2 linked regions of the Homo sapiens genome follow. The protein of the gene in region 2 interacts with the protein of the main gene of each other region in a biochemical or structural test. Each region holds a gene or a part of one and is shown on either strand. Other genes may lie near its edges. The genes, in order: UBE2B and TRIM45.

Region 1 (3,822 bases), on a different chromosome or scaffold from region 2:
CATGGACACAAATTAGGTTTGACCTGTGAGAACATGTAACTTACACAATCAGGAAAGGGACTGCAGACTGGATCCCAAGTAGGCACTACTGAAAGAGAAAAGTTAGCTGAAAAGCATGGATTCTTGTCCAAGCTCTGCCATTGGTTACCTGTGTGCTAAGGAGCTGACTATATCCTACAGAATACTGACAAATTATAATACATCCTAACACACACTTACCTGAATTGATGTTAAGATAGAAGATACATCATATGTTGGACTCCATCGATTCTGAAGGATATCTAAACATATGCTACCATCAGCATACACTGCAAAGACAATACTAAAATTAGTTACACACTCTGCCATATCTAACAGTTAAGAGAAATCTTTACCAAACAGAATGCTTGGCTTAGAAGTTTTAAATATTAGGTAATAACTAAATTCTTCTGTATCACAGGATAACCTGTCTTAAAACTAAGGTCTCTTATTTTGCACCTGCTATGGTTTGAATGTTCCCTCCAAATCTCATGTTGAAATGTAATTGCTGGAGGCTGGGCACGGTGGCTCACGCCAGTCCTGAACACTTTGGGAGGCCGAGGCAGGCAGGATTGCTTGAGGTCAGGAGTCTGAGACCAGTCGGGCCAACACAGTGAAACCCCATCTCTACTAAAATTATAAAAATTAGCCGGGCATGGTGGCACATGCCTGTAATCCCAGCTACTTGGAAGGCTGAGGCAGGAGAATCGCTTGAACCCAGGAGGCAGGGGTTGCAGTGAGCTGAGATCACACCACTGCACTCCAGCCTGGATGACAGGGTAAGAACCTGTCTCAAAAAAATAAAAGTAAAAAAATTAAATAAAAAAAAATTAATTGCCATTGTAACACTGTTGAGAAGTGGGACCTTTAAGAAGTGCTTAGGTCATGAGTGCTCAGGGCAGGAGTGTACTCCAGATAAAAGGATGAGTTTGGCACCTTTTCTTATGTCTTGTGTGCTCACTTGTCATTCTGCCTTCCACCATGGGATGTCACAGCACCAAGGACCTTGCTTAGGTGCTGGCGCCATGCTCTTGGACTGCCCAGTCTCCAGAACCATGAGCCAAACAAACTACTATTATTTACAAATTTACAAATTATCAGTCCCTGCTATTCTGTTGTAGCAGAAAATGAACTAAGACAGCATGTTATGATCAGGAGGCTTTGAGTTAAATTTCTTCAACACACATCATTTAGCAATCTATTTAAATTCCGTATTTCTAAATATTCTTAAAGCTTTTAAAAAACTGCTTATTTTTGACATAGCAATTACACTCCTAGAAATTAAGGAAATAAACGTGGACATGCACAAAGATTTACTTACAGGATGTTCACTATAATACTACTTATAAGAGTAGAAGGCCAGGCGCAGTGGCTCACACCCATAATCCCAGCACTTTGGGAGGCCGAGGCGGGTGGATCATGAGGTCATGAGTTCGAGACCAGCCTGGCCAGCATGGTGAAACCCTGTCTCTACTAAAAATACAAAAATTAGCCAGGCATGGTAGTGCATGCGTGTAGTCCCAGCTACTCAGGAGGCTGAGGCAGAAGAATTGCTTGAACCCAGGAGGCAGAGGTTGCAGTGAGCTCAGATCACGCCACTGCACTCCAGCCTGGGCGACAGAGCGAGACTCTATCTTAAAAAAAAAAAAAAAAAAGTGAAAAACTAATTCTACCTTGTGGTCCATAAAAGAGGGAACTGGCTAAATAAACAACTGATACATTCATATAAGCAATAGCAACACAATCACCAGAAATGATACATATCTACTGTTTATAGAGTAAGACATCCACAGACTATTACCTTAAAAATAAGTTTTTAATTATTTATAATTTCCTATTTTGATTAAAAAGTTTTATATAAATTCATTTAAAGTATATGTAGTCAAAAAACATTTCTAAGACCGAATGTCAAAATGTAAGTAGTGGATATTTGTAATAGTAGGGTTATGGATGATCTTATTTTCTTTTCCTTTTTTTTTTTTGAGATGGAGTTTCGCTCTTGTTGCCCAGGATGGAGTGCAATGGTGCAATCTCAACTCACTGCAAGCTCCGCCTCCCAGGTTCAAGGGATTCTGCTGCCTCAGCCTCCCACGTAGTTGGGATTACAGGTGCCCACCACCACGCCCAGCTAATTTTTGCATTTTTAGTAGAGACGGGGTTTTGCCATATGTTGGCCAGGCTGGTCTCGAACTCCTGACCTCAGGTGATCCACCTGCCTCGGCCTCCCAAAGTGCTGGGATTACAAGCATGAGCCACTGTGCCCGGCCCTTTTTTTTTTTCTTTTTTTGAGATGGATTCTCAGTCTGTTGTCCAGGCTGGAGTGCAGTGGTGAGAACTCGGCTCACTGCAACCTCCACCTCCTGGGTTCAAGCAATACTCCTGCCTCAGCCTCCCGAGTAGCTGGGATCACAGGCATGTACAACCACGACCCAGCTAATTTTTGTATTTTTAGTAGAGATGGGGTTTTACCATGTTGGCCAGGCTAGTCTCGAATTCCTGACCTCAGGTGATCTGCCCACCTCGGTCTCCCAAAGTGCTGGGATTACAGGTGTGAGCCACAGCGCCCCCAGCAGATGATCCTCTTTTCTTTTTCTTTTTTTTTGAGATGGAGTCTCGCTCTGTCACCCAGGCTGGAGTGCAGTGGCGTGATCTCGGCTCACTGCAACCTCCGCCTCCTGGGTTCAAGCAATTCTCCTGCCTCAGCCTCCCAAGTAGGTGGGATTACAGGCACACATCACCATGCTTGGATAATTTTTTATATTTTTAGTAAAGACGGGGTTTCACTATGCTGGCCAGGCTAGTCTCGAAGTCCTGACCTCGTGATCCACCTGCCTCAGCCTCCCAAAGTGCTGGGACTACAGGCGTGGGCCACCGTGCCTGGCCTATCTTATTTTCTTTATCCTTCCTTGTGTTTATGATTTATTTGTGCAATGAGTATACATATTCCTTTCATTAAAAAAAAAAATCAAGTGACTAACAGGTATCAAAAGTCCTGAACATCTGGGAGGGTTCTTCCCTTTTTAGACTGATTCTGTGAAAATACAAGCAATGAACGTTAAGTATTTGCCCAATTGTGAGACTATCTGTAGAAAAAATTTCTAGAAGTGAACTGCTATGTAAAACAAAGAGTAAATTCATTTAAATGTTACAGATACCATTTCATGGAGCAAACCATAACAGAGAGTGGGGAGCAAATCACACTTAAACACTGTGATTCTTCCAGACTCTATCCTAAGCCCTTTTCCTTCTTACCCTTTACACACACACTGGGCAATCCTATTGACTCCTGTGGCCTCAGTTACCATCCATGTGCTCAGTATTCCCAATCATTGGCCTTAGCCTAGATCTATCTCTCAGCTTCAAAGCCAACTTACTGTCCATCCCACAGAAACATCAAACTTAGCTGCCCAAAGCAAAAATTAGTAACTCTGTAAAACCCATAAAAGTGTAAAACAATTTTAAAGTTCTGAGTAACTATTTCTGAGAATCCAAAAGTAAATCAGAACTCAAATATCTTATCAACTAATGAACAAAATACAGAATATCCATACAGTGGAATATTATTCAACAATAAAAAATGAATCACAGATACTATTATATCACAACATAGATGAGCCTTGAAAACTTTATGCTGGGTGACAGAAGTCAGTCACAAAGGACCACATAGTATAAGATTCCATTTATATGAAATATCCAGAATAGTCAAATCTAGAGGGAAAACACGTTAGGGGTAACACTTACCTAGGACTGAAGCGGGGAGGGTTAAGACAAACAGAGTTGACTGCTAAGATAATAGTTATGGGG
Region 2 (3,822 bases):
GAGGCAGGTGGATCACGAGGTCAGGAGTTTGAGACCAGCCTGGCCAACATGGTGAAACCCCGTCTCTACTAAAAACACAAAAATTAGCTGGGTGTGGGGGAAGGTGGGGGGGAACCTGTAATCCCAGCTACTCGGGACACCAAGGCACGAGAATCATTTGAACCGGGAGGCAGAGGTTGCAGTGAGCCGAGATCATGCCACTGCACTCCAGCCTGGGTGACAGAGTGAGACTCTGTCTTTAAAAAAAAAAAAAAAAGAAAAAAAAAGGGTTATATCAGAAAGGAACTAAACTACCTAGACCCTTCAGTGCCAATGGAATAGATACCTCCATACTGTACAAAATGAAAAGGAGTATCCTGTGGTAGAAAAAGAACGTTGCCAACCTACCTTTAAGAGAAATGTAGAGGTGGTTTTTTGTGCTCAACCATCCACAAGTACAATCAGTGAATAACTAACAAAAGAGCACTTGAACTCCAGTGCAAGATAAGGCACTTTGTTTTTAATTCTATCAGTCTCTTTAGAATGAACGAAGGTCTGGGTCCTCTGGAAATCTCAAGTGGTGCTGCCTGCAGCTTTAAAAGGCTGAGCACAAACCCATCAGAGAGCCACAGTCCTAAGTAGACTCCTCGGTGCGCTCTGCCCACCTGTCCATGTGCATTCAGATTTCTCATTAAATTTTCCACAGCATGACCAGTGGGGATGACCTGGGTGGCCTTTGTGTCCATGGCCACAGCCTAGGTACCCACCTACATGGGACAAAGAGGAAAGGACAAAAATCAACCATTAGCGTGGAGGCCAGCAGTTACCATTATCATGGAAATTAGACCTCCTGGCAACATGCAGATTCATGGGAGTGAAAATATCTAAGAAAATCTTGGCAAGAGGAACAAGCTGTCTGACTGTTGTGCAGTCAGGAGGACCCTGAGAATTGATCACAGCAAATCAACTCATGTTAGCCGGAGTTCTAAGAATGCTGTAGTGATAGAACTTACCACCTGAAGGAGGCGAACTAGTTTGCACATTAACTGTAAAATAAATTGGTTTGGATTTTAACTGTAAAATCATTGAAATAAAAAAGGATAGGTTGGTGGACATTAAAAAAATAGAGGTAGATCCTCAAGTGTTTATACAGAAGGATGCAAAAGCCCATTTTATGGCCCATTATTAGAGTAAGGACACAATAATTTTTTTTTAAAGTAATTAGATCCCTAACCTAAACTGACTCCCTATCCTTTCTGTCCCCCGAAAGACCCAGACCTTGTTCAATTGGTTTAATCATCCACTCCCCTAGCCATGCCTCATTTGGAATTTATTTAAGGTTCTAAAAGGAATAAGATGGGTCCATAGTTTTCACACTGCTTAGGCCGCTGGAAAGGGACAGACAAACTGAGAATCCTACATAGAAGCACAGGGCTCATAGGAGCTGTACCAAAACTAACAGAACTGAGAGCTTTTAAGTCTGCTATTTCAATTCAGAACAAGGAAGCTTTAAGTGACACTTTTAGAACAGTGGTGTCTCTACAATCACAGACTGTGCTTCCTAGAAACAGAGCCTAAGTCCAAATGTCTAGTGGCTGTGTGGTAGGGAAGGGCCCGTCGCTTGATTCCCACTGCTGGCAGAAAGGCCCAGAGGGTAGTGCTTTCTCCTTACCTGGCATGGTGCCTCCACAGGCGCAGCGAGCGGTTTTCTGGCCCCCGCTGGAGCAGAAGGTGCAGCAGTGAAACACGCCTGAGTGTGGGCGGTGCTTTCTCCTCACCATCACAGTGAATGGCGAGCCCTGCAGTGTTCAGACCAAAAGCAATGAACAGCATCTTACGAGTTAACAGGATGTGCTGCGCATCACTATGTGCTAAACAGAGTCTGAGGCACAGGGCCTGTCCTTGGATGGACAAGGACAACAGGAAAGAAACAGATTAGAGGACAAGAACCCTGCTCAGCTGAGAGGAGGCAGACACAGATGCAGTGGAAGCATCACAGGGTCTATGCAGCCCTCCTACCATGCTTTTCACCGCAGATGCTAAGTACTAGACGTAGGTACTGATTTATTCCATGTAGCTGAACCTGCTGGACACTGAAAGGAGTCACACAGTCAGCTCCATTTTCAGTGACATCTGTATTAGCTGGGAATAATTGTTCTGGCAAGATGGCAGCAAAAGCAGAAGCCCATGCCACAATAAGCTTAAGCTTTTCTTGATGGATTCTGCCTCACTCTATCCTTGTATGAAGTATAAGTACCTAGATCATTCAATACATTAGTAATCTCAGACTGACTTTTCTCTGGGATTCTCAATCTCAATTCTTAAGGAACCTCAGGTATAATAAGTAGAATGTCACAACCACAAAGATAGGACATTCTGTGGTCCCTTCTCCAATTTCTCAGCCATGTACCTCTTCTCACATACCAAGCTAGCCTCTTTCCTTCCATCCTGGACATGACTTATCTGTTTACTCACCCACTTATTCTGGGACTGTAAAGACATATGGAAGGGAGAAAGGTTAAAATGTGTACAGCTAATAATTCTCAAATTAGTAACTCTCCCATCTGCCCCCTTTCCTTTAAGGATAACTTTCGTTCTCTAATTTATATCCCATGTTAAACAAAAAATATTTATTTATTTTTTTAAAGATGGGATCTCACTCTGTCACCAGGCGGGAGTGCACTGGCACATCCATAGCTCACTGCAGCCTTGAGCTCCTGGGCTCAGGCAATCCTCCCAAGTAGCTGGGACTACAGGTGCACACCATCATGCCCAATTTAAATATTTAATAAGTTGCAATGTGCCTATCCTTATGTGAGAGCCACATTGTTTGCGAAAACGCAAAACAGAGAACCTAGCACCTTAGAAGTCTTTCAGATGTTAAATTTCCCATCTTAAAGAGTTTACAATCCAGTTAAAAAACAACTTGGCATTCAAAGAAATGGGTTCAAATTCCTATTTTGCTACATTTGCTGTGTATTTTAATGCAAGTTTGGTGTCTCAGTCTAATTGGACACTGATCCCTGTGCCTGAAGGGTTTTGAGGCAAATTGAAATAATGTATGTAAAAACACCTAACCTGTTCCTGACATACCATAATTAGGTAAACAATAAATGGCTATTAAATATGAATGTTCCTTAGTGCACAAATCATAAGCCTAATATATCATGATGCTATATGGTATTTTACTGTCCCTGTCAGTGTTGATTTCTGTGGAGGGAAACCTCTGACTACTCCAATGTCAGCAGAGAGATTCTGCTCGACCTGTTAGTATCACCCAATTTTTAAAAACTCATACTCTCTAAAGCAGAAAGTGCTCTACTTGTGTTATACTTGTTTGTAGAAACCATGGTAACGTAACTTGTTTGGTATATTTGTTTGTTTATAGGAACCATAGTAACAGAAAAACCTATATGTAAAACAGAGTAGAAAATTACATGAGCAGATGGTTAGGCAGATAGATGACTAGTCAATTGTGAGGAGGGGGCATAACCCTCTCAACTGTGTTCATGTCCAGACACAGTCTGGACAAAACTGGAAAATCCTGAGCTAGATTATATTTTTTGAATATGCATGGTTGTCTGCTGGCAGATCACCCCCTGTGATCAAGACATCTTCTCCATATTAAGAATCCTAAGAAACCAACTGGGAGAATGATAAGCTATAAGCATAACTGCCTGGAGGTGACACAGGGATACAGGGTTCTTATGGTCAACAGCATCCTCCAGGAAGAATAAGAGTAGCAAAATCTGGGCTGTTTCTAAAGTGAAGAAGAAGACATGGGGATTCTATTCAATCTCTCTGTATAGCTGATCCTATGTGAAATGTCTCCAGATCCTAAGA

Evidence for each region.
Region 1: the proteins of TRIM45 (region 2) and UBE2B form a complex in vitro, tested with the Homo sapiens proteins (one study listed by BioGRID).

What each region holds. Positions count from the first base shown.
Region 1 is NC_000005.10:134,384,811-134,388,632, reverse strand, and holds part of UBE2B (ubiquitin-conjugating enzyme E2 B), read right to left. Parts: intron 309-3,822; coding exon 220-308; intron 1-219. UniProt on the Homo sapiens protein: E2 ubiquitin-conjugating enzyme that accepts ubiquitin from the ubiquitin-activating enzyme E1 and transfers it to a E3 ubiquitin-protein ligase. In vitro catalyzes 'Lys-11'-, as well as 'Lys-48'- and 'Lys-63'-linked polyubiquitination.
Region 2 is NC_000001.11:117,111,708-117,115,529, forward strand, and holds part of TRIM45 (E3 ubiquitin-protein ligase TRIM45), read right to left. Parts: intron 1,779-3,822; coding exon 1,652-1,778; intron 747-1,651; coding exon 598-746; 3' UTR 1-597. UniProt on the Homo sapiens protein: E3 ubiquitin-protein ligase that plays a role in the regulation of inflammatory response.